4 separate regions of the Homo sapiens genome follow, and all the other regions are linked to region 1. The links come from fine-mapping of genetic effects on gene expression. A gene starts in region 1. Each other region holds a variant in brackets. All regions are shown on one strand. Distances are between the middles of the regions.

The links.
Region 2: its variant is fine-mapped to the expression of PFKFB3 in amygdala (GTEx, PIP above 0.99).
Region 3: its variant is fine-mapped to the expression of PFKFB3 in testis (GTEx, PIP above 0.99).
Region 4: its variant is fine-mapped to the expression of PFKFB3 in CD4 T cells (BLUEPRINT, PIP 0.95). The same link has a PIP of 0.9 or more in monocytes.

The regions. Positions count from the first base shown.
Region 1 is chr10:6,199,219-6,207,319 of GRCh38, forward strand. PFKFB3 (6-phosphofructo-2-kinase/fructose-2,6-biphosphatase 3) reads left to right here and starts at 3,714. Exons shown (of 15, transcript NM_004566.4): 1 at 3,714-4,118. The coding sequence starts at 4,043. PFKFB3-AS1 (PFKFB3 antisense RNA 1) reads right to left here and starts at 3,539. Exons shown (of 2, transcript XR_007062045.1): 1 at 3,222-3,539. RefSeq lists enhancers at 1,350-1,867, 1,868-2,384, 2,939-3,443, 5,183-5,685, silencers at 2,187-2,406, 3,437-3,766, 3,817-3,926, 4,047-4,556, 4,787-4,866 and a cis regulatory region at 3,377-3,908.
Region 2 is chr10:6,269,086-6,277,186 of GRCh38, forward strand. It overlaps a transcript of PFKFB3 not described here. Among named protein-coding and RNA genes, the nearest start is that of LINC02649, 53 kb to the right of the region's middle. RefSeq lists silencers at 1,247-1,447, 2,887-3,087 and enhancers at 1,577-1,626, 5,910-6,019, 6,170-6,609. The variant G/A (reference allele first, on the strand shown) is at 4,755.
Region 3 is chr10:6,127,752-6,135,852 of GRCh38, forward strand. All of the region lies in intron 1 of LOC101928080 (a long non-coding RNA gene), which reads right to left. Among named protein-coding and RNA genes, the nearest start is that of MIR3155A, 20 kb to the right of the region's middle. RefSeq lists enhancers at 2,177-2,226, 2,277-2,356, 2,367-2,446, 6,383-6,931, 6,932-7,479. The variant A/G (reference allele first, on the strand shown) is at 4,642.
Region 4 is chr10:6,343,628-6,351,728 of GRCh38, forward strand. It overlaps LINC02656 (long intergenic non-protein coding RNA 2656), which reads left to right and starts at 6,689. Exons shown (of 1, transcript NR_148966.1): 1 at 6,689-8,101. RefSeq lists a cis regulatory region at 4,383-4,883. The variant G/C (reference allele first, on the strand shown) is at 4,603.

The DNA.
Region 1 (8,101 bases):
TCACTCTCTCTGGGGCAGCGGGTAGGTCCTAGCTTGGTTTGAACGTTTTAACCTGGCTATGGCTGGCACAGGATCACGGAAATGCGGTTGCTTGTGTTTGTTGTTACAGCAGCATTTGGAAGCACTGGTAGGAGTTAGATGACATTGGCTGGCACAGAAGTGTGGGAACAAAGGTGATCCTGGAGAAAAACCACTCCACTGTCCTCTCAAGGCTGGACCGAGCTCAGTGAATTCAGCTATGTGAGCACCTCACCAGGCACTTGCTTTTTTTTTTTTCTTTTTTTGTGACAGGGTCTCACTCTGTCACCCAGGCTGGAGTGCAATGGTGCAATCACAGCTCACTGCAACCTCTGCCTCCTGGGCTCAGGTGATCCTCCCACCTCAGTCTCCAAAATAACTGGGACCACAGGTGCGAGCCACCATGCCCAGCTATTTTTAAATTTTTTTTTTTTTTTTTTTTTTTTTGCAGAGATGGGGTTTCATGTTGCCCAGGCTGGTCTCTTAACTCCTGAGCTCAAGCAATCCGTCCGCCTGAGCCACCCAAAGTGCTGGGATTACAGGTGCGAACCACTGCACTGGCCAGGATCATTTTCAATAATTGCCCTGCTAATGTCTCATTCTACTCACGGAAGGTCCTTCTCTGACCTTTCCTTCCCAAACAGCTCAATTGTTCTAGGTGAGTCTGAATCACAGCCTGATCAGCGGCTAAATTAGGATTCCACTCAGCACCCTGGGGTTAGGGTGGCCCTATAATGAGTCTCCTAGGGAGCTAGCTATCTGCGTCCGTGTCAAGCAGAAGGGAAAAACAAAAACAAACCAACAAAACCAACAAAAACCCCAGCAAACTCTGCTCCTAATTGGCTTTCTTCTTTGATCTCTGACCTGGTTCCTTGACTACTCTAATCTCAACTCCCTTTACTTCTTCCCATAAAGCAAGTGGGGTTGACTAGGTAGTCTTGAAGTTTCCTTCTATCTTTCATAGTTTCTAGGACCACGACCTAGGAGAAATCATCAATCTGCGCTAGCCTTGGTGTTATTGTAGCTGTAAAAGAATCATCGTATTAGAGGAACATTTACGTTATTGGGAGCGTTTTCTGAAGGGCCGCCTTTGTGATACCCAGGTTAGTAGGAGGGAAGTTGGCCAAGCCCTAGTTGGACATTTGGGGTGAAGATGGGGCATTAGCAGAGCTAGGGAATGAGTTAGGAGGATGTCCAAACTAGTAAACTCGGAACCAGTAAATTACCAGAATACAGTTGCAGTTGGGTTGTTTATAAGTGATTTTGTAGTGAAGCAGTTTCATCTCTCATGAGGGCTCTACCCTAACTTACCTGGGGCTGTAAAGGCTGCCAGGAGTTCTAGCTGGCCATTAAAAAAACAAAAACAGGTGTGCATTCGTCCTTGCTCCCACGCACTCCCAGTTTGCACTTAGATGTAAGGAGCGGGGGGGGGGGGGGGGCGGGGGGTGGTGGTGGGGCGGGGATTGAGTTAACTTCCTTTTGCCTGCTGCAGAGCAAGTGCAGGAGGCGAATGGGGGAAGAACATAGTCTTCCCTCTAGACTCGGAACGCGTTATTGACAGACAGGAAAAGTGCCCGGTCTGCGAAAGTTCAGCTGGACCTCCGGGACATCAACTCCCTGTGCCCTAAGAGCTGACCGCTGTCAGATGCGTTATCTAGGTCAAGAGATGAATGATGTGCCGCTGCTGGGGCAGACGCCGTCTCTCTGCTCTCCCTGTGAGCTGAAACCAGCAGTGTTTGCAAGCTTGTAGGGAGTGTGGAAGAAGGCCCCCTGGTCCGCTTGCCTCGCCTGTACGTGTGCAAAATCGGTGGGCAAGCAGCGGGCGCGCAGGTGCACCGTCATTCCCCAGGAACCGCGGGCGCTCTTTGCAGGGGTGCAGCCGCTCTCCCCGCGCGCAGCCTACAGCCCTCCCCGACCCCCGCGAACCCCAGGGCGGGAACTCGTCCCGGTGGCGCGGGCGCTCGCTGCCTGCTGTTTCCCTCTTCGGGTCAGCCCACTCTTATTTCAGGAGTGGAGTGGGACTCTCCCCTGGGCGTTTAGGGTGTCGCCTCTGGCATGTGCTCCCACTGCAGAAAACAAGTCCAAATGCAACGCATCGGGTTTCTGAACAGCCGCCAGAGCGCGGAAACCAGACCGTCAGCAAAGCTGTCGCGGGAACAGGGGCTCTGAGAGGGCGGCGCGGGGGGCGGGGTGCCGGAGTGGGGGTCGAGGCGGGAGGGGGAGTGGGGGTCGAGGCGTGGGGGAGGGTGGCGGGGCACAGGCCAGGTGGCCGATGTTGCGCGTTCCGGGGCCCCTCGGCAGGCGGCGGGTCGGGAGGAGTGGAGGCCCGGGTGGGGCGGGCGCGCGGGGCGGGAGCAGCCCCGGTCGCCGCCTGGGCGCGGGCGCCCTCCCTGTGGAGCATGCGGGACGTGAGCGACGTGTGGCAGCCTCTGCGCAGACTTTTCCGCCGCGGTGTAGGTTTCAGCGAGCGCCGCCTTCCCTCCAATCACAGCCCAGCCTCAGCGCTAAGTGTGCACCTCTCTGCAAGGCGGCGCAGCGCTCCCGTACTGAGGCTTCGTTTGCAAAAGTTACATCCGTCCCGGCGCGGGCGGCGGTTCCCCACCAAAAGCAACCCAGATCTTCCCCGCACGCCTCTGACCTGACTGCACGACTGTCACAAGTCGCGAGCTGGTGCAAACTGCGAGGGCCGGGAAAGGAGACGGGGCACGCATGCACCAAAAAGTGGGGAGGCAGAGCTGCAGGGTGTGCAGGATAACGGAGTGAATTTTAGGAGTCTGCCTAATAAGGGGCCGCCCCCAATAGTTTTCCCTCGACTTAGGTAATGAATTGCAGATCGAAATGGGTCTAGTTTTATTCATTCTTCTACTCGGGGCGATAAAGGTTTATTGAATGGTGTACATGGTGAGTGTGAAAACCAGATGCCAGCTGCCCCCAGCCCCAGTCCACTTCAGTCCAGCTCCCCGGGGCTTTCCCGCCCCCTCCTCGTACCCAGCACCGCGGGCCTCTCAAGGTTCCCAGTCTTTGGGCTAGGGGAGGGGAGCAAGGCTCAGTTCAAGTCCAGGTTTCTAAGGGATTCAGCAAAGTGGACAAGGACGAGGTGAGGTGGGAGGATCAGGGAAGCCTCCTCCCCGCGGGTCGCCCGGGTCGTGGCGGGGGATGGGCTCACGGGTATTATCAGGGAGCAGCCTGGCCCATGTCCTTACCTGGACTGCGCCTGCCCCACAGCGCGTGTTAGGAATGCAGAGTATTGGGGCTCCATGGCCCTAAAGGAGCTGCATTGGTAGGATGCACTTTAAGCAGCTTCCCAAGGGATTCGGCTGCGGGGTCCACGGTCTACACTGGGCAGGACTGCGTCTCTGCTCTCCTCCCGGCCAGCACAGTTGAGGTGAGGGGCCGGAATTAGTCGGGGAAGCTGTGCCAGACGTCCCGAGGGGACAACGGGACGAGGGGATAACAGCAGCCAGGACCCTTCAGCAGGGCTGGGCGCGCTCCAGGCCCGGGGCAGGGCGGCGGGAGCTGGTGCACCGCCGTCGCCGGCCCGCAGGGGGAGCTCGCAGGCTGCTTCCCGGCTCGCCCACCCTCCTCCCCACGTGGAAGGGGGCTGGGACCCAAGGAATGCGGCCCGCCCCGAGGCTGACGTACGCGTCTGCGGCCAGCCCGGACTCTTTAAAAGCCGGCGGTGCGCGGGGCATCCCAGCCAAGCCGGAGAGGAGGCGAGCAGCAGGGCCTGGTGGCGAGAGCGCGGCTGTCACTGCGCCCGAGCATCCCAGAGCTTTCCGAGCGGACGAGCCGGCCGTGCCGGGCATCCCCAGCCTCGCTACCCTCGCAGCACACGTCGAGCCCCGCACAGGCGAGGGTCCGGAACTTAGCCCAAAGCACGTTTCCCCTGGCAGCGCAGGAAACGCCCGGCCGCGCGCCGGCGCACGCCCCCCTCTCCTCCTTTGTTCCGGGGGTCGGCGGCCGCTCTCCTGCCAGCGTCGGGATCTCGGCCCCGGGAGGCGGGCCGTCGGGCGCAGCCGCGAAGATGCCGTTGGAACTGACGCAGAGCCGAGTGCAGAAGATCTGGGTGCCCGTGGACCACAGGCCCTCGTTGCCCAGATGTGAGTGCAGCTGCGCGGAGCCGGGTTGCAGGGCGGGCTGCGCCGGGCCGGGCCATTGTGTGGGGCGGCTTTGTGCCGACGCCCCTCTGCGGGGGGCGCGCCCGTGCGGGTCGCGCCGGCGGGGCGGGGCGGAGGCGCGGGCTGCGCGTCCTTGGCCGGGCGGCGGGGGCGCTGTGGCCCTTGTCCCGGTGGCTGCCCCGCCGGCCCGGAAACGGCGAGTGCGCCCGGCCGGGCTGCGTACCCCGAGACGGAGGGACGCGCGCGCCTGGGCAGGCCAGGGAGGGGATCCACATCCTCCGCGATCCCTGTCCTCGACACCCGTCTCGGGCGGCCGTCGCCGGAGCGCAGCCCAGGGACCCGGCCGCTCGCGCCTCCGCCCCTTTTCACCGTCCGGATCTCCTCTCTCTGCATGTTTCCATCTCCTCTCCCGCCTTGCTATGCATTCCTATCCCCTCGCTTCACTTAATAACCTATTTCTCTGTCCTGTTTTCTCTTTCGATATATATGTCTCTGTTTTTCTCTGTTTCTACCTCCTTCCTCTCCCACTGTTTCTTTCTGCTTTTATCTCTTTCTCTCTCCTTCTCTCTCTTCCGTGCATCTCCAGTGCCATGGGGGCGCCCGTGCTGGGGGCGCCAGGAGAGCCACCTGGAGCCACGCCTGTGTCCCCGGCTTTGGGGAGGGTCGGTGGGTTGGTGAGTGCACGGTTGGCGCTGCTCCACGCGCCCCGGGCGCACGCACCCCCCGGTGCTCGGAATTGGCTGGCAGTACCCTGCCCCGCCCCGCCGGTCGCCGCCCCCGCCACCAGCGATCGCTTGGGAGAGGGTTACCTCGAGCTCCACCTCAGCTGCGGAGCGCCGCCGCGGAAAAGGGCGGGTGGGCAGCGCAGAGGGGCGACGCTGCCTCTCCAGGTAATGCGCCCCGGCTCCCATGGGCTGGACAGGGAGCCGCCTGGTGCGGTTTTGCCCAGGTCAGGTCGTAGCCTGAGTAGTGACCGTGGGATCCAGGTGCAAACTCTCGAGGTGGCTTCGGGTCATCCGAAGGCGCCTGAGCGCAGGCGGCTGGCAGGCAGGGTTGCCCGGCTACTACGTTTCTTAGGACGGCCCCCGCGGGACTTGGCAGCTCTCCTGGAGCCCTGCTCGGTCTGAATCACCGGCCTCGTCCAGACCTGCCCCTCTCCCCACACCCACCCCCATGGTGTGCCCTGGGTGGGGACGTCAGCAGATCCACCCTGGTGGACTTCAGGGTTCTGGGGTAGCCCTCAGGAGAGGTCTTGTTCCCCCTCTTTGTGAGGTAGCCCAGGACTGGGGGATGTGGGTGTGTTGCCCAGCCCAGTCAGATGCGCTTGAACTGGGGTGGCCCATGGTTCTCTTGTCTTTGTGTAAAACCTGTAAGTGGAGTGGAATGCAGCTCTTAAATCCCCAGGGAGGTTTGGCCAAGGCCAAATGCAGAAACAACTTTTGCATAAAGCAAGTATTATCTCTATAGCACTTTGTAAACTGCATTGGAGGCTAGTCCCACATATGTAAATACATGTGATTGTATACGAATGCCCACGGGTCTGAGAGGAGTGTCCCGTGACTTCCAGGGCTCTGAGATCTGTTGGCATCAGCTCAGTTGTGATCTTGAGAACTCCAGCGTGCACCAAGGCGTCCTCCCTCCAGGCTTGGATCCTGATCCATTAGACCCCATCAACCTGCACGTCTCACACGCAGTGAGAGATTTGCCTAAGAATCCCTGTCAGAATCATTCAGAGCTGGAGGGTGGGAATTTGGCTAAAGCCAATGGATTAATTCTTTTGTCCCGCCTACTGCTGGTATCCTCCTGTGTGGCTTTGAGGTATAGTCTCAGACACATTCCTTCTTGTAAAAAGATCCGCAGCCTGGGTATCGCACATCCTTATTTCAAGTGGTGGTGTCTTTCTCAGTTTATATAGTCACATTTAACTCTTACTGGAATGGAGGGAAGAAGGTGTTTCTATTTGGTATCTTTCCTGACACCCTCCCTCGATTCTCTAATGGCATTTGGGACATTGGGTGGGTTTTTCTTTCTTCCTTTTTTTTTTTTTTTTTTTTTTGACATGGCGTTTCACTCTGTCACCGAGGCTGGAGTGCAGTGGTGCGATCTCGGCTCACTGCAACTTCTGCCTCCGGGTTTCAAGCGATTCTCGTGCCTCAGTCTCCCGAGAAGCTGGGATTACAGGCGCACGCCGCCATGCCCAGCTAATTTTCATATTTTTAGTAAAGACGGGGTTTCACCATGTTGGCCAGGCTGGTCTTGAACTCCTGACCTCAAGTGATCCGCCCACCTCAGCCTCCCAAAGTGCTGGGATTATAGGCATGAGCCACCACGCCCAGCTGGGTGGGTTTTCTTTCTCCTAAACTTGTTGCCACCTTTATAAGTGGCCTTCTCATTGGAGGTCTGCAGCAGAGTTCCCTGAGGTTTATTATTTATTTATTTATTTATTTATTTATTCATTTTTGAGGTGGAGTCTCACACTGTCACCCAGGCTGGAGGGCAGTGGTGCGACCATAGCTCACTGTAACCACCAACTCTTGGGCTCAAGTGATGCTCCCGCCTCAGCCTGTCCAGTAGCCGGGACTATAAGTGTGCACCACCACACCCGGCTAATTAAAAAAAATTTTTTTTTTTTTTTAATTGATCATTCTTGGGTGTTTCTCGCAGAGGGGGATTTGGCAGGGTCATAGGACAATAGTGGAGGGAAGGTCAGCAGATAAACAAGTGAACAAAGGTCTCTGGTTTTCCTAGGCAGAGTGTTTGTGTCCCTGGGTACTTGAGATTAGGGAGTGGTGATGACTCTCAACGAGCATGCTGCCTTCAAGCATCTGTTCAACAAAGCACATCTTGCACCGCCCTTAATCCATCCAACCCTGAGTGGACACAGCACATGTTTCAGAGAGCACAGGGTTGGGGGTAAGGTCATAGATCAACAGGATCCCAAGGCATAAGAATTTTTCTTAGTACAGAACAAAATGAAAAGTCTCCCATGTCTACTTCTTTCTACACAGACACAGCAACCATCCGATTTCTCAATCTTTCCCCGCCCCTTTCCCCCCTTTCTATTCCACAAAACCGCCATTGTCGTCATGGCCCGTTCTCAATGAGCTGTTGGGTACACCTCCCAGACGGGGTGGTGGCCGGGCAGAGGGGCTCCTCACTTCCCAGTAGGGGCGGCCGGGCAGAGGCGCCCCTCACCTCCCGGACGGGGCGGCTGGCCGGGCAGGGGCTGACCCCCCCACCTCCCTCCCGGACGGGGTGGCTGCCGGGCGGAGACGCTCCTCACATCCCAGATGGGGCGGCGGGGCAGAGACGCTCCCCACATCTCAGACGATGGGCGGCCGGGCAGAGATGCTCCTCACTGCCTAGATGGGATGGCGGCCAGGAAGAGGCGCTCCTCACTTTCCAGACTGGGCAGCCAGGCAGAGGGGGTCCTCACATCCCAGACGATGGGCGGCCGGGCAGAGACGCTCCTCACTTCCCAGACGGGGTGGCGGCCGGGCAGAGACGCTCCTCACTTTCCAGACTGGGCAGCCAGGCAGAGGGGCTCCTCACATCCCAGACGATGGGCGGCCAGGCAGAGACACTCCTCACTTTCCAGACTGGGCAGCCAGGCAGAGGGGCTCCTCACATCCCAGACGATGGGTGGCCAGGCAGAGACGCTCCTCACTTCCCAGATGGGGTGGCGGCCGGGCAGAGGCTGCAATCTCGGCACTTTGGGAGGCCAAGGCAGGCGGCTGGGAGGTGGAAGTTGTAGCGAGCCGAGATCACGCCACTGCACCCCAGCCTGGGCACCATTGAGCACTGAGTGAACGAGACTCCGTCTGCAATCCCGGCACCTCGGGAGGCCGAGGCTGGCGGATCACTCGCGGTTAGGAGCTGGAGACCAGCCCGGCCAACACAGCGAAACCCCGTCTCCACCAAAAAAATACGAAAACCAGTCAGGCGTGGCGGCGCCTCCTGCAATC
Region 2 (8,101 bases), 70 kb after region 1:
CTAGTATGTAGAAATGACAATTGCTTTTTAAAACAGTAGTTGTCAACATGGGCTCCCCTCCCTGGGTCTTCATCTTCCCTGAATGGCGATTCTTCAGTATATTTTTACTTCCCTATATGCCCAAGCAGATTATTTTTACGTTTTTTTTTTTTCAGCTGTTAGATAAAGATACTGAGATACCAAGAACATAAATAACTTTTCCTAAACAAATTTAAGACTGAATTATAGACTCAGTGATCTAGGATGATTTATGTACTTATTTATTTTCAGAGATGGTTGCCCAGGCTGGTCTTGAACTCCTGGGCCCAATAAATCCTCTTGTCTCAGCTTCCTGAGCAGCTGGGACTACAGGTATGCACCACTGCACCTGGATAGGATGATTTGGTCTTGTCTTAAGGAGCAACACATACATATATTTTTTTCCCTTTTCCAGATTCCGGGGTCTGTTATCTGTGTGATGAGGCCATGGGGAAAATGCAGTGAATATAGGCTTTGCCATAGGTAAGACGTTGCAGTTAGGAAAGTGGAAGTGACTTAGGGTGGAGAAATGGGAAGAGAAATTGGTTTAGTGTGTGGAGAGAGGAGGCAGTAAGACTTAACTCTTCCCAGGGGTAGACATTAAATGGCTCATATTTCTGGTCACTGACTGAGTTATTTTGTACCTGGACAACTTCAGAAGTCAGCATGTCAGAATGCATAAATGAAGAGGGCCATATGATGTGACTCTATCTGACACAGTTTTATCTATTTATTTTGAAAATGGTGCCAGGTGTGGTGGCTCACGCTTGTAATCGCAGCACTTTGGGAGGCTGAGGCAGGTGGCTCACCTGAGATCAGGAGTTTGAGACCAGCCTGGCCAACATGGTGAGACCCCCCTCTCTACTAAAAATACAAAAATTAGCTGGGTGTGGTGGTGTGCACGTGTAGTCCCAGCCACTTGGGAGGCTGAGGCAGGAGAATTGCTTGAACCCGGGAGGCGGAGGTTGCAGTGAGCCGAGATCGCGCCATTGTACTCCAGCCTGGGCAACAAGAGCAAAAACTCCGTCTCAAAAACAAACAAACAAAACAAAACAACAACAACGACAACAACAAAAGAATATGGGTGTTTAAGACTCAGGAACATGGGACAAGAATTCTGTGCTCTACTTTCTGGTGAGCTACGACCCGGAACCAGTTGCTTTCCCTCTCCACAAATCTCTCACGGAGATAATGATGCCTTCTTTTTCCCATTTCATATGAGAAGTATAAGTTACCTAATATTACTCATTCTTCTACCAAGAAACTAGAGGAATATTTTTGAGGTAACTGATTGTGTCATGCAAGGTTTAAAAGCCCTTCAATGGTTTCCTGTTGCTCTTGCGTTTAATGACACACGTCCTAACCACAGCTCACCGTGTCCTGGGGCATCTGGTTCTTGCCTGTCTCTCTAGCCTCAGCTCAGCCTACACTCCTCGGCCACAGAGGCTTTCTTGAACTCTTGTTTTTGCACACTCCCTCCCATGTAACACCTTTGTGCTTGCTGTTTCCTCTGGATAGTAAGGGTCCGGTTCCCTCTTTACCAGGTGGTTTCTAATGCATCAGATGGTGTCATGGCATCAAGGAGTCTTCCCACCCTCCGGGCTAGATTAGGCCCTATGACATGCGCTCATCGGACCACATGCCTCCTTTGTAGGACACCCAGAGTTGCAGTTTCACCTTTATTGGTGTCATTATTTGCTTCATGCCCGTTCTCTCACTAGACTTAAGCACCTTGAGAGTAGGAACTGGGCCAGTTTTGACTCAGCACTCTCTTCCCAAGATCTAGCCCCCTGCCTGGGATAGTAAGCACCCACTAAATATTTGCCAAATAAATGAAGGAAAGACATTTTTATTCATTTCATCCTAACTGTAGATTTTCCCAGTTCTTAAACTTGTTTTCTGAAACGTGGGTTTGGATAAGAAGCATTCAGGAACAGATTATTGAAATTGGGAAAGAAAGTGAAAGATGCTCTTCCAATGGCCTTGCTACAAGTAATTAGTATTCAACCACTTCCCCCGTCTGGAACCTAGTTTCAAGTGCCAAGAGAAAATGTGTCTAGCATTTAAATGGATTCTTCCAGAACACCAGTGGCCATGCAATTGCTGAAGTAGCCAAGCTCCTGTGCATTGTAAATGTCAGCCTTGTTCCAACACCTCTGCTAAGGTAAGGACGAGAACCGAAGAGCGTTACCTTTCAATTTATGATTTCCTGGTGCGTGTGTGATGCCTGGGAGGCCCAGGCTACGTTCCTTTAGCCACTGAAGGACTCTGACAGCTGCCTCCTGGGGGTGTGGGAGCCAAGAGGCGGGAAGTCAAACTTCAGATGTGTCTATTGAATGGCAGGATGAAGAGCCTGGTAGCAGTGCTTGCGGAAGGGCTGGGAAGCCGAATTCTTTGAGAGTAATGAAGCCACTTCCGGGCAGGTAGCACAGGGAGCTGATGAAGCCCAGTGTTTGAATCAGACCTCTTTTAGCTCCAGTCCTGGTTCAGTACTCTCTAGGTGTGTGATCTTGGACAAGATGTTCAAGCCCCAAGCCTATGAGTCTCTAACTAAGGTTGTGTAGAATAAATGAGACAGTGTACCTCAGACCTTTGATAAAAAGTGAATGTTCAATAAAGGTAACAGGATACTGTGACCCCAAATAGCCACAGCGCCTTCTCCCGTGGGTGGAGGGTGGAGCCTATGGGTATCTGTGTGTGCTTTCTCCCCCACACTGTGGGCATGTATTTATATTTTTAAAGCTAAATTGAAATGAATCCTAGTTCAACCTTGAATGGGAAGAAGTATTGCAAAAGGGCAATAGGCTATCAGAGGGTGGGTGTGGAAGTGGGAGAGGCAGGTACCTATTTACTTAGGGAATATTTACCAATCTCTACCATGTGTGGGAATCTGTGCTTAGCACTGAGGATAGACCAGAGGGTGGGATAGACAGTTGCCCCTGCCCCGATGGTGGCTGCCATCCAGCAGGGAGGGCAGATGTGAAGCATTACATACGTGCTTACTTGCCATTGTGCATGTATGTTGTATGTTATGAACAAGTGCAAAGCACCCCGAGTTCACAGACAGGGGCTGTAACTGTCTAGTTTGGTGAATGGCTGATGAAGGCAGTGCTGGGAGATGATAAATGTCCCTTCTGTCCCTTAGGACTTGCAGGTAATGGTCTCCTGTGTCCCTCCCTTGACTCCAGGCTGTCTAGTGAAGGTGATCGTTCCAATTGCCCTATTAGGACATCGGGGTTTCTTAACTAAACCCTGAATGATGCCTTGGATTTATGCATTCTGGCCAACGTGTTGAAATACGTCAGTCTGGCTGGGCACGGTGGCTCATGCCTGTAATCCTAGCACTTTGGGAGGCCGAGGCGGGCGGATCACCTGAGGTCAGGAGTTTGAGACCAGCCTGGCCAACATGGTGAACCCCGTCTCTACTAAAAATACAAAAATTTTAGCTGGGCATGGTGGTGGGTGCCTGTAATCCCAGCTACTTGGGAGGCTGAGGCAGGAGAATTGTTTGAACCCGGGAGGCAGAGGTTCCAGTGAGCCCAGATCGTGCCATTGAACTCCAGCCTGGGTGACAGAGGGAGACTCTGTCTCAAAAAAAAGAAAAAAGAAATAGGTCGACCTGGGCCCCAGCCGCGCTGTGCTTTCATGAGTTTCCGTCAGCCCTGTTCCATATCCTGGATCTGTGCATGCCAAGGGCTATGTGGGAAGATTTCATTTCAGGTCTCTTGAGAACAGGGTCAGATGGAGGAGGCAGGCTTTATTTCAGATTTGGACAATAGGCCTGAGGGCTTGATTTATAGAGAAAGTCTCAGAGGAAAATAAAGGAAAAGAAAATACTTCCCATTCTCCTAAAGTGTTCACATGTCTCCTGTGCAGTGAGTGGGGCTGAGATTGCAGGCTTTTTTTTTTTTTTTTTTTTTTGAAGTGGAGCCTCACTCTGTTGCCCAGGCTGGAGTGCAGTGGCATGATTTCAGCTCACGACAACCTCTGCCTCCCGGGTTCAAGCAATTCTCCTGTCTCAGCCTCCCAAGTAGCTGGGATTACAGGTGTCTGCCACCACGTGCGGCTAATTTTTTTGTATTTTCAGTAGAGACGGGGTTTGCTGGGCCCACCTCACAGATGTGATCCATATTCTCATGATGGCCGTGAAATTAGAGATGTGACTAGAAGCAGCTGCCCACCAAAAGTAAAACAAACAAAAATGAGGCCTGGAGTTTTCCCCGTTCCTCTTCTGGGGCCCGAGGAGCTTGCCACCCGTGGGTGAAAAGCGTTGCCTTCCCGAGAACGCCTGCTCTTTAAGGGATCCCCGCCGCCATGCAACCTACAATCGCACGGCCCTTTACAGTGTATAAAGCCCTTCAAACCTTGAGGGGGCTGTCGGGAAACCTGTGTTCTGTTGACAGTTCTGTCAGTCACTCTGGGCTTGAGGGTTCTCTAAGGAAAGCATGGAGATTGGACTGGAGTATGTTAAGGACTGAATTGCATCCCTGCCAAAAACAGCACGTTGGAGTCCTACTCGCCAGCACCTCAGGGTGTGACCTTATTTGGAGAAAAGTCTTTCCAGAGGCCATCAAGTTAAAATGAGGTCATTAGGATGGGCCTTAATCCAGTATGGCTGATGTCCTTATAAAAAAGGGAAATTTGGAGACAGGCACATGCAGAGAGAAGGTGATGAGAAGAGGGAGTGAAGACAGCTGACTACAGGTCAAGGACAGACACCTGGATAGCTCCTTCCC[G/A]CAGCCTCAAAGGACCCAGTCCTGCCGACACCTTGATCTTGGACTCCCACCTTCCAGAATCAGGAGAAAATAAATTTTTGTTGTGGGCCGGTGCGACAGCTCATTCCCATAATCTCAGCACTTTGGGAAGCTGAGGCAGGAGGATCACTTGAGCCCAGGAGACTGAGACCAGCCTGGGCAGCATGGGGAGACCTGTCTCTACAAAAAATAAAATAGCTGAGCCTGGTGGCACTTACCTGTGGTCCCAGTTAGTTGGAAGGCTGAAGGGGAAGACCGCTTGAGCCCAGGAGGTCAAGGCTGCAGTGGGCTATGATTGCAGCACTGTACTCCAGCCTAGGTGACAGAGCGAGATCCTATCTCTAAAAAAAAAAAAAATTAAAAAACTGTTGTGTAAGTCCCTCCATCTGAAGTACTTTGTTGCGACATCCTCAGCACACTAATACAGTGTACTGAAGCTTTTTTGTGTGTGCTGTAGCCCCTCTGGTCCTCCAGGGTTGATCCTGAGCCCCTTCTTAGAATAATGTTTACATTTAAAAAATAACACACTTTGGATTACGAAGGAGAGAACTCTTGAAATACTGATATCAAAATGCCAAATATAAACATTTACGATGTAGAAATATATGTACCACTTTAATAATGCATTCAATAGTGGCAAGTCTGAAAACAACCGTAATTTCACAGTAGAGATGAAGGGTAAATACTCTTTCAAGACATCTGCAACAGGCTGGGTGTGGTGGCTCATGCCTGTAACCCCAGCACTTTGGGAGGCTGATGTAGGAGAATTGCTTAAGCCCGGAAGTTTGAGACTAGCCAGGGCAACATAGTGAGACCCCATCTAAAAAGAATTAGCTGGGTGTGGTGGCACACGCCTATAGTCCGAGCAACTTGGAGGCTGAGGTGGGAGGATCCCTCGAGCCCGGGTGGTCGAGGTTGCAGTGAGCTGTGATGGTACCACTGCACTCCAGGTTGGGTGACAGAGCCAGACTCTGTCTCAAAAAAAAAACAAAAAACAAAACTGCAATAACCATCATGTGCCATGAACATATTATGATTTTTACTGGTGACCGACACAGAGGCTGCTCATGTGGTATGCTGCCTATCTTCATAATGAAAATGCTAAATATTAGTTCCTGGCTAGTGGAGGAAAAGATTTTTTTTCCCACCCAAGTTTACATATTCTTGAATTTGATCTGTTCCTGGACTGGGTGGTGTCCACTAGGGGACTTTTGGGGTCTGTGGTTAGGCGACTCTGGGTGGATTGTCCCATGAGGCTGATGCCTCTTGCTCTTTGCTTAAGACTCAGTGACCCTTCGGCACTTGGGGGCCTTGTGCCAGGGGCAGGTGGTCACGGCCCCGCCCCTCTGTTGTCATGGCGACAAACCGATGTGGCCTCTGGAAGCTGCTCCCTTCTCTGTCCTCTTCCAGAGCCTTGCCGTGGCTCCGGTAGATTTCTCTGCATAGCTTGTCTGTGACTCGGCGAAGGAGGTGTGTGGAGAAGGTGCCAGTTCCCTCAGCGGAGCCACCCTCGGGGCCTGCGCCTGACTCAGACAGGAAGTAGCTGACACTCCATGCCAGGAAGTAGCTGACACTGCATGCCGGGAACGCTGTCCCCAGCCTTGTGATGGAGTCAGGCCTCTGCCGGTGACTCACCGCCATCACCCAGGCGCTGCTCTTGCTGGGAATTTTCTCATGAGCTCATCTGGGCAGTGCAAAGAACCACACAATTGTTCCCCACACGCGTTCTTATTGTGCAAAAGGGAAACCTTGGTTTGGATCTTGTGGGTTTTTTTCTTTTTTTGAGATGGAGTCACGTTCTGTCACCCAGGCTGGAGTGTAGTGGTGCGATCTTGGCTCACTGCAACCTCCGCTTCCCGGGATTCTCCTGCCTCAGCCTCCTGAGTAGCTGGGATTACAGGCATGGGCCACCACGCCCGGCTAATTTTTGTATTTTTCATAGAGAGGATTACATCATCAAGAATGAAACATTTTTTTTTTAATGGCTTAAGGGGTATATGGCTCTTCAAATACACGCAGGGGTTATGCTTTCTCCATGTGGAGGGTGGTGCTCCCTCTGCAGCCCACCCATTCGGAGACAGGCTTTCTTCATGCTGGAGTATCTCATTCCTCGAAATATGCTTGCTATTTCATGCTTGAAATCAAGATGTCTCCCAATTCATGGCACCTTGTATTTGACAAATAGACTGCGTAAAGACAGAGTCTGTCTTTAGGGAATGAGAGGATTTTTGGTAAAAACAGAACCAAAACTTCTACTGACCCAAGAGAAGGCTTTGTTTGCTTGGAGTGGATTATCAGCCAAATGCTATCTTTATTTTGTGGGATTTTGGCCTTTGAATCAGGTTCATGGGTGGCATGCTATAGAAATAGGATAACAAATGGGATAATTCTTCAAACAGAAACATGGCCTAGAATGGGAGGGGTTGTTGTTTATTTATATGTATGTGTCATAAAAATATTTTAGATCATAACTTAGCAAATGTATGAAAGTGGAAAATGTGTTTATGGATCTATTTCATAAAAGGGCCATGCTTCAGAAAAAAAAAAAATCCCAAGAAACAAACCAAAAAATGCCAAAAAGAGAAATCTCTGTATGGGAGACTATCATTTAGCTGCAGACAGGATAGTTACAGATTAATTGCTGGCCTTATCTAACTACTAGCTACAATAACTCCAATTTGGGGTCGGCCAAGTACCAATGAACTTCGCTTTCTCTGGGCAACAGCTGAGATGTTGCAGCTGCAAGTGGGGTTAAATAGCCTCCAATAAAGGAAAAAACTTGAGGAGTAATTCAATTAAAAAAAAATTGACATAATTATAGATTCAAGGATGATGCAAACAAAAAGTGTGCAGGAAGGTCCTTGTCCCCTTCCCTCAGTTTCTCCCAATGTGACATCTTACATAGCTACAGTACAATATCACAACCATGATATTGAGATTGGGTCACAGAACCTACCTAGATTTCCCATTTTATATGTATTTGTGTGTGTGTGTGTGTGTGTGTGTGTGTAGTTGTAGGCAGGTTTATCACATGTGTGGATTCTTATAACCATCACCCAAATCAAGATATATCTTGATTTTGCTCCATCACCAGGAGGCTCCCTCATGCTACCCCTCTAGAGCCTCAAGTCACCTTCCCTCCTTTCTCCTCCCCACCTGCTGGCAACCACTAACCTGTTCCCCATTGCTGTAATTTTGTCATTTCAGAATGTTGCATAAATGGAATCATATTGTATGTGATACAGTTTGGATCTGTGTCCCCGCCCAGATCTCATGTTGAAATGTAATCCCCAGTGCTGCAGGTGGGGCCTGGTAGAAGGTGATTGGAT
Region 3 (8,101 bases), 71 kb before region 1:
TGATGTGTGGAGAGAAGGCCTTTGCTATGGCTGCTTGAGCATGGGACCAAACAGAATAGACCAGGAATTTACAGCTAGATGTGTAAGGTAATTACATTGTCCAAGAAACCAAAGGGTGCAGTGGTTCACTCCTGTAATCCCAGCACCTTGGGAGACCAAGGTGGGAGAATCACTTGAGCCCAGGAGTTTGAAACCAGCCTGGGCAACACGGTGAGAGCCCATCTCTAAAAAAAATAAAATTAACTGGGTGCAGTGGCACATGCCTGCTGTGGTCCCGGCTATGCAGGAGGCTGAGGTGGGAGGATCACCTGAGCCCCAGAGGTCGAGGCTGTAGTGAGCTATGATTGCACTGCTGCACGCCAGCCTGGCCAACAGAGTGAAACCCTATCTCAAAAACAGCAACAAAGAACAAAGCAGCCCTCAGGCTGGCTAGCAGTAGCCCCTGTCTGTTCAGGCCGTGAAGCCATCTGCAGCCCCTGAACCCATACTCAAGAACTGAACTGCAAAACCCTATGTTCTCCATCAGGGGTGTCCCGCCCAGGGCCCTGCTTGGATGAGGTCTTGGAGGACCCTCCCAGAGACCAGAGAAGTCAGTGGGAAGGTCTGATACGAGGTGCCAGGCTGGCTCACTGGGGAGCTTGCTGTATCGCCAGGGCAGGGAGACCTCACTGCTCCTTCCAGCGGGATCTTGCGTGTGACTCGTTTTGTCTTCCCATCCTCTGAGTTTCTGAAGGGGGATTGTATTGCAATGGTCTGTTTCCTCTTCCACCATTCCTTACTGCATGTGTTGATGATGGACTACAAGTCTTTGGGCTATAGCTGGTGGGATCATGAGGAGCTCCCTCTGGACCCCAGGCGGACGCCTGCACCTCATCTGGATATGCAGGACTCGGGAAGGTGGATGCCATGGCTCAGGTGGTCTTGAGGGTGGCCCTCCAAGCCTTTGGCGGGGGCAGTGTGTTCTCTAGAAAGAGGTGCACTGGGGCTGACCTGGGAAAAGACCAACCCGATTCACATTCCCAAACCCTTTCTTGTATTTAACTTTTCAGAAACGTTCCATCTGCTCTCTCTCAGCACCACTTTGCAGCTAATCAAGAAGACGCAAGCAGACATCCACTGGGGGTGGGGAGGAGTTCCGAGAGTGCTGAGCCTTCCGGATTAAAGGGACATACGCTGCTGCCCGAATCCCAAATGCAGCGTGATGCCACTACCGCAGCCCAGCTGCAGCCTTGAGGAAGAGGGTGCAGGAGCTACAGAGGCTGTCCTTGACATGATTCAGCCTTCAAAGCAGGATTAACTGCTGCTGCCTCCAGACCTTCCTGTTTTGTGAGAAAAACAAATCCCAATGTGTTTAAGCCTCCATGAGTCAGGTTCTCATTTACATGTAGCCGAAAGCATTTCTGAAGGGTGCAAACACACTCGAAAGATAAGATTCTACCCCATCAGCAAAAACCATTAGGTGAAGTTGATGAACATTTTTCAGTCAACACTGGTTTCATGTTAACAGCTTAGTGATCTTCCCAGGGGGTGAGATTTGGGGTGCACTGAGGAGGCCTCCCTACCTAAAATAATTCCAGCAGTCCTGTTATTGATGCCTGAACTTCTACATGCAGAGCCACACGCAATCTGCGTGGTATGCACACACATGCACACACAGCTGTTAGGAGGGGCCTGAACAACCAGGAGTGTAGACGGCAGCGCAGGAGCTTGGGACAGAAAGCCAGGCTGTGGTTTCATGCATTGCAGATCCTATATCCCAGAAGCCATTTCTTTTTCTTTTTCTTTTTCTCTTTCTTGTTTTGTTTTGTTTTTTGAGACAGAGTCTTGTTCTGTCACCCAGGCTGGAGTGTAATGGCGCGATCTCGGCTCACTGCAACCTTCACCTCCCTGGTTCAAGTGACTCTCCAGCCTCAGCCTCCCGAGTAGCTGGGATTACAGGTGTGTGCCACCATACCTGGCTAATTTTTGTATTTTTAGGAGAGACAGTATTTCGCCATGTTGGCCAGGCTGGTCTCGAACTCCTGACCTCAGACGATCTGCCCGCCTCGGCCCCCCAAAGTGCTGGAACTATAGGCGTGCGCCACCACGCCTGGCCAGCCAAATCTATTTGTAACAGATTTCACTTTCAGAAAATTTCTCCATGTAATCCAAATCTTTCATTTTCTAGTACAGACCTCTTTCCCCTTAGCACTCTGTTCTTGATGACTTAGAAGTGTCGTTTCTCTTCACATCATTTGCACGTCATTCCTTCCTGTCTCCAGCTTCTTCTTCCCAGCCCTCCTCCTCCTCTGCACACAGGAAACCTCATTCTGTGGTGTGAACAGGGGGATTCCCGTCTTCCTGAAGCGACTTAGTCTTGAGCTGCCTGTGCCCTTCCCATCACAGTGAATGTTGCCAGTTGGGGATGACTGGGCAGCCATGGGGAAGGTGAGCAGAGGGCAGAGGAGTCCAAGCCCCTGAGGTGGAGGTGGGAGCAGGGAGAGCTGCAGGCTCAGCTGCTGGGGCAGTAGGAGGAGAGCCAGGACCTGGAGGAGTGTGTGTGTGTGTGTGTGTGTGTGTGTGTGTGTGTGTCTGTGTGATTGTGAGTGTGTGTGTGTGGTGCGGTCAGTGGGGAGCGGGGGAGTCTTTTATCTTTACCACTTGTTTGTCTGATTAACCTACTTTTCTTGGTTTCTAGGGAAAGAGCAAAAAAATTTTTTCTTTCTCTGAGACAGGGAGTAAAGCACGTGGCATCAAGACTGCAGCAGAAGGCCAGGCGCAGTGGCTCACACCTGTAAACCCAGCACTTTGGGAGGCTGAGGGTGGGGGTGGATCACCTGAGGTCAGGAGTTCGAGACCAGCCTGGCCAACATGGGGAAACCTCATCTCTACTAAAAATACCAAATTAGCCAGGTGTGGTGGCACGTGCCTGTAATCCCAGCTACTCGGGAGGCTGAGGCAGAAGAATCACTTGAACCTGGGAGGCGGAGGTTGCAGTGAGCCGAGATCATGCCACTGCACTCCGGCCTGAGCAACGAGTGAAACTCCATCTCAAAAAAAAAAAAAAAAAGAAAGAAAGAAAGAAAAAGAAAAAAAAAAAGACTGCAACAGAAGCGCAGGGCACCCTGGGATGCCTGCAGCCTCTCACCTTCAACCTCTGTGCTGGGATCCATCAATTCCCTTCCCATTTGACTGTCAAATCAGAAGGGTCTTTGCTAATTTCAGCATAAATTGGGAGAAAGCTGACCTCGATTTAGCTGGAATGACAGCAATGACTAATTTGTACACCAGAATTAATAAAGCTAGCTCTTGCCCCACAGGGAGAGAAAGATGATGTGGTTTTCTTGCATCTGCCCTAACTGAGATTGCTTTTTGGCAAGGATAGAGAAATGCTCATTCTCCACACTCCCAGGAGGGGGTCTGCTGACAGCTCCTGGACTGTCACCTGAATTGAGGTGTGACTGGGCCAGGGGTGTCCCAAGCCAACCAGCCAGGCACCTGGACGGGTGGGCTCTTGACCCCCTGAGACCACCATGGTCTTCGAAGGAGAGTCAGCAGGTCTGGAAGCAAGCGTGCTGGGGACCCCTTCCCCGTGGGGGGCCAGGAGCTCCTGTTATAAGAGCTCCAACAGGCCTCCGTATTTTCTGTCCCTTTTACAGGCAAGAATTCAATTCTGGGTCCTGAGCAGGGGTTGTCCCGGTCAATAAGCAACTTCAGTTCCTTGGGACAGGACCCCAGACTTGCTGGTAATGACATCGTTGTTTCTTTACCGGATAAGTCTCTCTTAACCCTGGAAAAGTCTGTTTACACAGAGGAGTGTGAAACCAACTCATACTTTTGATATTTTGGGGTTACGTTTAGGCAATCTTTACATATTTGATATTTTAAGAAGTTGCTGTTTTAAGAGGATGTGGCATATTTTAACTTGTAATTTTAAATGCAATGAATGGACTGGCCTCTTGATTCCAATTCAAAATATGTGATTGGGTAATTGATATAGATTTGTGATTTAAACTCAGATATTCAACGCCAATTTATTAAGATTGTAGGCAGTATGGGAACATTTAAAAAAACCAGAGATTCGCCAGAGTTAGTTGTTAAGCACTTGAGAATGCTTGTGAATAAATTAAAGTATTTAAAAGTATAAAGTATTAATATTATAAATGCAGTTTAAAAATTTTAAGGCAGCAAGTGCGTTGGCTCATGCCTCTAATCCTAGCACTTTGGGAGGCTGAGGCGGGCGGATTGCCTGAGCTCAGGAGTTTGAGACCAGCCCGGGCAACCTGGTGAACCCCTGTCTTCACTAAAATAAAAAAATTAGCCAGGCATGGCGGTGTGCGCCTGCCCATAGTCTCAGCTACTCAGAAGGCTGAGACAGGAAAATCGCTTGGACCCAGGAGTGGAGGTTGCAGTGAGCAGAGATCACGCCACTGCATTCCAGCCTGGGTGACAGAGCAAGACTCTGTCTCCAAAAGAAAAAATTTCAAGGACATTTAAATAAATAAATTTCTGAATGGGAACAGTCATCAAAGTTTTCCTTAACAATGACTGTTCGATGTTTTCTGTATTATAAAATAAAGTTATACATGGATGGAGCTGGAGGCCATTATCCTAAGCGAACCAACACAGGAACAGAAAACCAGATACCGCATGTTCTTGCTT[A/G]TCAGTGGGAGCTAAACACTGAGGACACAAGGACACAAAGGAGGGAACAACAGATACCGGGGCCTCCTTGAGGGTGGAGGGTGGGAGGAGGGTGAGGACCAAAAAGCTATCTGTCAGCCGGGCGCGGCGGCTCACACCTGCAATCCCAGCACTTTGGGAGGCTAAGGAGGGCAGACCGCTTGAGTTCAGGAGTTTGAGACCAGCCTGGGCAACATGGCGAAACCCCATCTCTACAAAAACTTAACATTAGCCAGATGTGATGCTGCATGCCCTTGGTCCCAGCTATTAGGGAGGCTGAGGTGGGAGGATTGCCTGAGGTAGAGGCTGCAGTGAGCCATGATCATGCCACTGCACTCCAGCCTGGGTGACCGAGCAAGACCCTGCCTCAAATTTAAAAAAAATAATAAAAAAGAAGGCTACCTGTTGGGTACTATGCTTATAATTTAGGTAACAAAATAATCTGTACGCCAAACCCCTGTGACATACAATTTACCCATATAACAGATCTGTACATGTATCCCTGAACCTAAAATAAAAGTTAAAAATAAATAAATGTAGGACTGCAAAAGGCTTATTGCAAAAAAAGTTAAAGTTAAGAATAAATAAATAGGCTGGGTGCAGGCCGGGCGTGGTGGTTCACGCCTATAATCCCAGCACTTTGGGAGGCTGAGGCAGGCAGATCACCTGAGGTCAGGAGTTTGAGACCAGCCTAGCCAACATGGTGAAACCCCGTCTCTACTAAAAATACAAACATTAGCCGGGTGTGGTGGCACATGCCTGTAATCCCAGCTACTCGGGAGGCAGAGGCAGGAGAATCGCTTGAACCTGGTGGAGGTTGCAGTGAGCCAAGATTGCGCCAATTCACTCCAGCCTGAGCTGGAGAAAAATCTATTTTGTTAAGCAGGAGAATCCTATTTTGTTAAGCAGGAGAATCGCTTAAACCTGGGAGGCGGAGGTTGCAGTGAGCTGAGATTGTGCCACTGCTCTCCAGCCTGGGTGACAGAGCGAGACTGTCTCAAAAAAAAAAAAAAAAGGGCATTTGCTCCTCACATTTGGCCACTGATGAACACTGTCTGCATGTTACAGGTGAGGAAACAGGTGGAGGAAGGGAGTGCCCGGAGCAGAGGCCCCGCCCCGCCCCCACGGCCTGGCTCTCCCGCCTGGTTTAGTTTGGCCTCTAAAGCGTCCTCATTACAAGCAAAGTGCAGCCCCACCACAGAGAATCCCGTTTCTCTCTGGGAGTGCTTATGTGATTAATTTGAAGTCACCATGACTCTGATTTCCTCTGCAGAATTCAGCAGCGTATTCCAGGATTCCAGGAGCGCAATGCAGTAGAAAGCAACCACTTGGCCCAGGAGACTGAGACTAATTTCTGGGAAAGAGGCAGCCAGGCTCCTCGGCCTTATGCAGGTCATGAAGACTCAGTACATTGAAATTGAAGGTCCTCAGTTCCCAGCTAAGCGAGCCTCCAAGGACTGTGACGTCCCAACCTTCGGATGAGGATGGAGGCGGGAGGAGACACAGCGCCGGCCAGGAGACCTGGTGTTGGGGCTCTGCCCCTGGTCTGGCTGAGCAATCCGGGCAAGTCACTACCCTGGCCGAGGCCAGCTTTGTCGGCAGAGAAATGGGTGAATGCTGCCTCCGCTTGAATCCAGAGTTTGTCAGGATGCTATGGAAAAAATTATATGAAGGTTCTTTGCAACATTAAAAAAAATAATAAAATAAAATAAACCTGTTGCATATTTGCCAGGGGCTGGGCTTTCTGAGAGTGGACAGGGAACAGCTGAGCGTGCTTGACGGCTCTGGGGTCCTCAGGGCCTCCGTCTCCCCTGTGACACTGTCCTGGGCTCAGCGGGCTGTGGAGGCCCCAAGTGACGCTGTGAACAGCTGGCAAGAGCCTTTCCCGGACTCTACAGCCTCCCTGTGGCCCCTCGTTCCTTATGAAGGAAGGGATGGCTGCCCGACCTGTGGGTCCTGGGCACTGTCCTGCTCCCCTGGTTGTGGAGTTGCCAGGACGGCGGGACAATCAACACAACGCTCTTCTTCTTCTGTCGGGGACATCACCACAGAGAAGAAAAGAGCCTCTCCCTAGAGAGAAATCCTGATGTCTGAAACTTCAGCTGAATGGAGGAGAAAGGATAATTCATCACCTTTCCCCAGAGCCAGGGCAGCACGTAGGAGCTGCGTTTTGAGGGGAGGATGACAGAAAGAGTGCACACAGCACACCAGCTGTGCTAGGGCTGGGCCAGGCCAACCGTGGGCCCTTGGGGAGCCCATGCCCCCCACCAGCAGCCTGCTGCCAGGTTCCTGGGCCCGTGTGTGCGCCTCCTCCCAGGTGTTCAGCTCGGCTCTGACCTAGGAGCTGCCAGGAAGGGCTGTGCAGATGGAATTAAGGTCCCCATGAGTTGACTGTAAGATGGGAGATTGCTGGGGGCCGGAGTCCTTTAAGGCAGAGAGCTTTCTCCTGCAGGACCCAGAAGAAGACATCAGTGTTCAAAGCACGAGAAAGATCCAACCTGCCCTTGCCCCTGCGGAAGGAGGAGCCACGTGGCATGGAACGAGGGTGGCCTCTAGGAGTGACCCCGCTGACAGCCAGCGAGGAAATGGGGACCCTATTCCCACTCCACAGGAACTGAATTGTGCCCACAAGGAGGAGCTGGGAAGTGGAGTTTTCTCCAGAGGTTCCTGATGAGAACTCAGCTAGTCAGCACCTTGATCTCCGCTGGGCGAGGTCTGTGCAGAGCCACAGGCAGGCAGTGTGACTTCTAACCTTCAGAATCGGGAGCTAATGAAGGGGTGGGGCTTAAACCACAAAATTTCTGTGTGTGTGTGTGTGTGTTTTTTTGTTTTTTTAAAAAAAGAACACTACATAGCAATAGAAAGTAAACGAACATCCCCTGCATTAAATTGCACATGTATTGAAGTTCAGTAGATGTAAATTAGCACAGCTGTCTCTTCTTTCCTGAAAGCATTTTTTTTGTTTTGTTTTGTTTTAGAAACACAGTCTCACTCTGTTGCGCAGGCTGGAGTGCAGTGGTGCGATCTCAGCTCACGGCAACCTCCACCTCCCTGGTTCAAATGATTCTCCTGCCTCAGCCTCCTGAGTAGCTGGGACTACAGGCGTGTACCACCATGCCCGGCTAATTTTTGTATTTTTAGTAGAGATGGGGTTCCACCGTGTTAGCCAGGATGGTCTCGATCTCCTGACCTCTGGTGATCTGCCTGCCTTGGCCTCCCAAAGTGCTGGGATTACAGACATGAGCCACCATGCCGGCCCTGAAAGCATTTATTTTGAAACAATTTCAAACTGAAAAACACCTCTATCCTCTTCTCCCACACTGACCAATTGTTCCTCACCAGTTGTCTATGTATTTGCTAAATCATTCTGTGTGTGTGTATCATGTGCGAGTGCGTATTTTTTTTCTGAGCCATCTGAGCCCATTTACCCCTACAAAGAAAG
Region 4 (8,101 bases), 140 kb after region 1:
CAATACCCATCTGGCTTTATTACAATGTGATTCGGGGACTCTGCAGAGAGCACTCTGCAGCAAAGTATGACATGGGATCTTTTTCAGCTATGGACTTGCCAGCAGTCTTCTGCAGCCATGTCTTCTGGGCCAGCCTTGTAGGGAATTGCCCCTCCCTATTCCTGCCCAGCCTGGTTCCATCTGGTTGCTGTCAGGCTCCCAGCTGCTGGGTGGAGAACTGCAGTGGCAGAGTTTGCTCATCTGGATGCTTAATAAGCAGGCACCCTCCCTATGCCAAAGCAAAGCCTGCAAGAGAGGACTCTGATGGGTTGTGGGCAAGAGCAGCATTGGCTTTGCGATCCCCAATCTCATCGTGACCTCCTGGGTAGGGGAAAGGGAGCCCCTGGCAGAGGCTGTGGCCTCCTCTTCACTGGCAAGATGTGGACTTTTCCTCCTAGTTATGAAAGGGCCATGGGGCATGTCACACATTGAGGGAGGTCTAAGAAAAGGAAACTGCCACCCATGTTTGACTGTGATGACACTGGTAGAAATGCCATCCCGGAAGCAAGGATAGAGACCGCCTTCTCCCTCCCCTTGCGTTTGTTTCCATGTGCTTGTTCCCATTGGGAGTGGGAGGATGAGTTTAGAGAGTATTGAGATGATGCCTTTATTTAGGTGAAGCAGAGCTTGGCCAAGTCTAAAGTCAAGCTCTATAGATGGAGCCTCGCTAGAGGGCTGCCTCTGAGGAGCTAGGATTGCTTATAAGAACCAGGGAGGAGGAAAGACAGTGGAAAGGGGTAGGCAGGGATGCAGGCTGCCCATGGAGCAAGGTGGAGAACCTGTCACAGGGTACCCGGCCTTTTACAAGGGCTTTTCGGGGAAGGAGCTGTATCAGAGGCTGTTACTTGCCTCCTCAATATCCATTCTTCCCTACTGTTGCTATCACAGGAAGGTGAACACGTGCCCAGCTAAAAGCCTATATTTCAGTGTCCCTTGCTGGAATTGTGGCCAAGGAGATGTAAGTGGAAGTCACTGGATGGGATTCTGGGAAGGCTTTGTGAAGGTGGCTGACCCAGCTGGAAAAAGTGACCTTTTGTACTTCTGTCTTCTCCTTTTTTGTATCTGCAAAGAAGTGGAATGACTGGAGCTCCAGCAGCCATCTTGTGCCTATGAGGTGAGTTCTGGAGAACAAAATCCCACAGCCGAAGGTGGTGGAGCAGAATGATATAGGGTACCTGGTTCCTGCTGACAATGTGGAGCCCTCCTATGCTCCCTGGTCATCTCTCCTCAGACCATGCCATGTGAAAGAAAGTCATCCCATAATGTGATTAAGCCATGCTTACTTTGGGTCTCTGCTTATAGCAGACAAAAGCCATTTCTAGATAATTCAGGAGACTAGGCAATACAGACTAGCCTGCTTGCAAGACAAGCTTTCTTAGTCAAGCCTAGGTCTTCACATAGGACTCTTATTCAAGGAATTAGACTGAGAAAAAAGGCAAAGAGGAATCTACATGAAAGAGTGTATTGTGGTGAAAGTTAAACAGTCAAAAATAAACAGTAGTGTCGTTAACAAAATGCCCTTCTCAGTGTGCTCAAACACTTCAGAGTCCTGTTTTCTCAGAATCAGGGGATTGAAAATGACCTTAAATATCATTTAATTTGTTTAGCCCCACTCCCCTTTTTTCTTTTCTCTTTTCCCCTTTTCTCACCCACAGAAAGTCAGTGTCCTTCTGTTTGTGCCTGCTGGCCTTTTGCTGCCAATATCTGAGCAAAGTTGCTCCATATGACCCTGTGATATTGGCAGATCACAAGATTTGTCTCAAGTCATTCAGTATCAGATCCCAGAAGTAGCAACTCTTCTTTTGCTGATGCCTATCCATCTATTTGTCTATCTCTCCATCCATCTATCTACTTATCCATCCATCTGTCCATCCATCCATCCATCCATCCATCCATTTTCATCCATCCATCCATCCATCCATCCATCCATACATCTATCTACTTATCCATCCATCTGTTCATCCATCCATTAATCCATCCATCCATCCATCCATCCATCCATCCATGCATCCATCCATCCATCCATCCATCCATCCATCCATCCATCCACCCATCCATCCATGCATCCTTCCATCCATTTGTTCATCCACCCATCCATCCATCTATCTTCTCTCTCTCTCTCAATCGTCTGTTTATTGGTTGTTTCAAGCACTGCGGCTACACAATTTAAATACATAATCTTCACAACAACCCTATGAGCCTTGTTATCTCCACTCCACAAATTAAGAAATGAGGCTAAAGATAATAAAGTAATTTGCCTAAGGTCAAAGAGCTAAATGCAGGATAAGGTTGGAAGTGTCTATGTGGTTCCAAAGAACCCAACACACTGAACCACTTTGCTAGGCTGGCTTGTCATGGGTTATCCTTCCACATGACAAACAAATAGAGAATTCATTCCAGCCAACACACGCTGATTGCACAAACATAAAAACAGATCTTATAGAAATATATATTTGATGGGCTTCCAGGTAAAGACTTTTGTACAGCCTATCATGATTTACTCTGGCCTCAAAAACTTGCTTTAAAAGCCCAGAAAAAAAAAGTGTGATGTTAAAAGTCTTTGGGTCAGTTGGGTAAGAGGACATCACCAGAGTGGCAAATCCCAATGAAATGGAAGCTCCATGGCCAATAGAAATGGACCCTTGTTAGATTGTGGCTTATTGTAGCAATTCAAATATATTCACCTTTCAAATCATGTCTTTTCCAGGTATTATGACCACACAGGGGAAAGCCAGGTTAGCCCCCATCTTAGAGGATGGTCCTTTTCTGGATCACCAGGTTATAAATTTGTCCTACGACATAGGTTAGCGTGTACTCTTGGCCCTTCAAAGGATGTGGTATTTTGGTGTTGACCTTCAAGACGTTCCATAGTATGTAGTCGTTTTAATTTTGCAGAGGTACAAGTTCAAGGGATATCTGAGATGAGATATTTAGCTAGTGAGGAGGCAAGGGGGTTAGCGAACCCCGTAAAGCTCTTCAGGTGATGAAACGTTGTTAAAAGTATAGAGAGCAATTTGGTAAGAGACAAAAACTTAATGAAATTTGAAAAGACCATTATCTTGTGGGATGGGGATATTTATAGGAAGGGTGACTCAGGGGGCAGGGACTGCTGGGAAAAGCCAGGAACCTGTAGAATCATTAGGATCCAGTCATTTGGAGCTTCCTCCAGGTCTGGGAAGACATTCTTTCCCAGTTCCCAAGGGCCATTGCACTCTGATTTGGAAACAAATAATTTAGGATGAGTATAAAAATGATAAAACTTGCTCATCAAAGTGACATTTTAGACATAGCTAAATATTACCACATACCATATTATACTGTCATAGTTTCCCACCATTTTTTGTTCCTTGGAATAAGGCAACTTATAAATACTCTACATTATGGTTTTTTTTGTTTATTTGTTTGTCTTGTTTTGAGACAGGGTCTCGCTGTCACCCAGGCTGGAATGCAGTAGTGCAATCATGGCTCACTGCAGCCTTGACCTCCTGGGCCCAAGTGATCCTCCCACCTCAGCCTTCCAAGTAGCTGGGACTACAGGCATGCAACACCATGCCCAGCTAATTTTTAAAATTTTGTTGTAGAGACAGGATATTGCTATACTGCCCAGTCTTGTTTCCAACTCCTGGCCTCAAGTGATCCTCCCCCGTCAGCCTCCCAAGGCATAAGTTACTGGTGTGAGCCGCTGCGCTGGCCTATATTATATGTTTTTGCTGCTTCTGTTGGGGAAGAATTTGGTGTTTTATCTGAGAGAGATGACAGGAACCTTGGCCAGATGCCACCCCCAGAAACTCAGTGTCCTTCTGTTGGTAGCTGCTTGCCTCTTTGCTGCCCCTATCAGAGCAGAGTTGTTCATTTGCTTCTCTGAGCACATCTTGTGTGGAGTCTCGGGCCCCAGACAGCAGGGCTGCAAATGACACACTCAGCTGCAAGGCAGCAGTGATCTGTGGACGAGATTCAAATCCAGAGAAAAAAACGGAAGCCTCGAACTGCATCTGAAAACCAGCGAGAAAGAAGCAAATTCCTGTGAAATGGCACAGGCATCATTTCAGCGTTGACTCATTCTGCTCAAACCTGTCACCGCTCACACGGGAGTGGTCGTTGGAATAAGGGACTTCTCCTCAGGTGAATGACAAAGAAACACAGATTTGGATTTGCCCAGGTGTCTGGAGAGGAGGCTGCCCCTGGATGCCGTGCCCCACTGTGCAGAAAGGGGATGCCCGGGGCATTGTCACCGCAGCGAGTCTGCACCTACCATCCTCTGGCCCCTTTCTGCCACCTCTGCAGCATCTCCAATTAAATTTTAAAAAAGTAAAAGTGGGGACAAGAATCATCTGCCTGCCTGTGTTTGGCCCTCCTTCCAAGTTTTTGTGTTCTGTTTGAAATCAAACTTATGCTTTCTTCCAAAATGAATGACAGAGAAAAAAGAAAAAGCCACCCAGGCTTGAAAAGTGGTAGCTTCTTGCCGCCGACTTCCTGCCGGTGCCAAGTCAGAGGGAGCTCTGCGTGTCCTCAGTTCACCCTCGCCAGGCCACACCGCATGCAAATAAGAAGCTGTTTCAGTGT[G/C]TGCCCATCTGAGACGCTGACATAAAAAAGGAAGAAAGAAAGGAAAAAAACCACCGTCACCACCAACAAAAAAACCCAAAACTGATTAATTCTCGTAGATTGCAGCAGAGCAGGGGGCCTGGTGGTGACACATCCTGTTTTGCTGTTCAAGTTGTCATCCCCCAAGCCAATAAGCTCCCTCATGAACGGCACCAGTTATGAAGGGTGACAAAGAATTCAAAACACTCACAGGACAATTTTCCTAACCCTTGGTCTCTCGGAATGCTATTTTTTAGGCTAATTTGTTTTGATGAGAAAACTATGCCTGCTAGGCCTATTTTTAAGCCAGATTTGAAGTCAACGCAGTTGGTATTTGATCTTGCAAGAACGACAGAGGTGTCAGCAGCAGCTCTGCCATTTAAGAGCTGTAGCCTGGTGGGACACCGTCCTGCAACCAGGGCCCTAGCACAAGAAGTATCTCTGTTGTTATTTGCTTCTCTTCTTTGAGATCCATACTTGATTTGAAAAATCACCACTTGAGCGGCACCTGGTGATTACGTAACCATTCAACTCTGTGTTTTATCCTAGGGCTAGGTAAGAAATTGAAAATCCAGCCTGAAATAATTAGTTTAGCTGCAGACAGGGTGTATTAAACAGACTCAATTTAATAGAGCTAGAACCATAAGATGAATGTATTTATCTTCAATCAAAGATGACATGTTGGACAGATTCCTTCATTCATCACTTTTCTGTTATGTTTAGCCCTAAGGGAAGTCTTTTTTAGATACGTAAGATGCACCTTCAGGGTTAAAGCATCTAGTCCAGTCTGAATAAAACATCAAAAGCACCTACAATCCCAAGCTCCTTCAAGAACTTTGCAGGCAGTCTTCGGGTGAGTTTGGTAAGACTATTAATCGGAGTAATGAAATAAAGTATTATCACATCTATTTATTTTTCTCATTTTCTTTTAACTTCTCTTTTGTGTATGTTCTAAAATACACATAATTTTCAGTTCATAGGGCATTTTCCCCTTGTAAGTAAATATGAATATATTTCAGAGTGAGCTCAAAGTTTTACGTTAGATTTAGGTAGGCATTTTTTTTTTTTTTTTTTAAGATGGAGTTTCACTCTGTCACCCAGGCTGGAGTGCGGTGGCTCGATCTTGGCTCACTGCAACCTCCGCCTCCTGGGTTCAAGCGATTCTCCTGCCTCAGCCTCCTGAGTAGCTGGGATTACGGGCACCCACCACCACACCCGGCTTATTTTTGAATTTTTAGTAGAGCTAGGGTTTCACCATGTTGGCCAGGCTGGTCTAGAGCCCCTGACCTCAGGTGATCCACCCACCTCGGCTTCCCAAAGTGCTGGGATTACAGGCGTGAGCCGACAAGGTAGGCAAAAGTTAAAAACAAAAAAACAAAAAAACAAAAAAAAATTTGGAATAGTCTGTAACAGAGGAGGGCTTGAAGAGAAGTGAGGTGATTTGCAGAAGCATCAGCCAGGAGGCATTCCTCCAGGAGAAAAATTTTTACTTAAAGGAGAGAGCTTAGTGATGGAGAAGGAAAAGATCTCGACAGACATTCAAGATTAGAATCATAAGTTGGCCATTGATTGGGTGTGGCTCTGGGAAGTGGAGGTGCTGTGGGCAGGGGCTGGCTTGGGCAATGAGAAAATGGTGTTGCTTATGTGCCCACTCTGTGCTGGGACTCAGCTGTGAGTGCCTCCAAATTCACCACATTTATCAAACCTCAGTGCTCTGAGACAGCATATGATGGCCTAGCAGGATGTCCATTCTTTTCCTGGAACCACCCATCCAGTTATCTCCTTGAGTCGCCTGGGTGGTGAAAAGTGGTCTCATGCACAATGGATGCGGTGTGATCCCCTTGCTATGTCACGCATGGCGTCTGCCCTCTTCCCTGGCACCTGTGCCACTCCAGGTTATGCCTGTGCTGCTGCCCATTCTACGCCCACCTGGAAAGCCTGAAACCTTCTCGTGCCTTCTACTGCAGCTGGGGAGCTTCTTCCACGTCTCATAGCCAGCTTCTCCAGAGGGAACTCCCAGAGCTGACTGTACTTTCCTACCTCAGCCTCTTCTTCCTGGGATGGTGTCAAAATATGAACAGATACAGCTTCATGCTTTCAGGAAACCACCTTCTCTTCCATCTTCTCCTTTGGCCTGCTCAGACAGCCAGACTTCTTAAACATATTTTTCCTACAGGCTCATGCAAATTAAGGGATGTGGCTGAGCATCTCCTTCAGTGCCCTCAAACAGGTCATGAATGTTGCAAAGCCCAGAATCGTGCTAACCTGGTAGAAGGCTGGTTTAGCCAGAACACACAGAGAGGACCTTCTCATGATGGTGTGGCTGAATTCCACATGTCACTAACAGTATCTTGCCCTGACCCGACTCCAAGTACTGATCCCCAAGGAAGGCATAATAGAGAGCCCATCTTGGGGAGGGATGATGACTTCATGTGCAAACAAGTCAAATTCAGGATGTGTGTTGTGGGCAGAGATGGCAATGCCCAGTCATCTGTTAGGTATACAGGTCCGCTGTACAGGAGAAAAATCAGAACAGAATTTCTATTTGTAGTGTTTCTTTTAGAGACTAGGGAATTGAAACCACAGGTGAATAAGAATGTACAAGGAACCAGGCCTTCTTGAAGAAATAGCTGAACCAGATTGGTGTCAGGAGCTGTACAAGGGGATCCAAGAATGTCTTGTCATACAAGCCGGACAGCTATTAAAGACAACTGAGGTCATGGCAAAAGGGCCCAGGCTTCTACTGGCCAACAATGAGACAATTTGAGCATCCCAAAGAATAATGACTTTAGTGGACTGAAACACATCAACATGTATACATCCATGAATTCATAATACTCAAAACGGTAAAACCAAACTCATTTGTTACCTTTGGAGGAGTCTGTCACCTCTGATTATTCTGAAAACTGGTAAATAGAAGGGGAAAATTCAAGCATTTATTCTGCTTTTCTTGTATAAACTGTACCTCACAGTTACGGAAGAGCTGATAAGGGAAATGTCTTCTTTATTGAAAAATTCAGCTGATACATTTGGAAGGAATGAGAGAATTACAGTACCACCATTAGGTGACAATGAGGGTCTGGTTTTTTATTTTTCTTTTGCTGAGTGCTGGGAACATAGTGATAACAAAAAAAGCCATAGTGTTCTGGCCCTTCTGGAGTTTTGATTCTAGCACATTAACCAAATAATCCCAGAGCAAAAATAAAATGTCAACTATGGTAAGTGTAGAGAAGGGAAAATACACAGAACTTTTAACAGCTTAGATCCGAGGAAGCTGACCAGCCTGCAAAAAGGGACAGCTTCCCTAGGGAAGTGACTTTGCAGCTGTGATGATGGATGACTAAGAGTTAACCAAGGAATGGGAGGAGGGAGGAGGAGACAGAGAAGGCTTTCCAAGCAGAAGCCAGAGCATGTGCAAAGATCCTGTGGCAAGAAGGAGCCTGGTGCAGGGGAGGAACGAAGAGACATGCAAGCTGGCTGG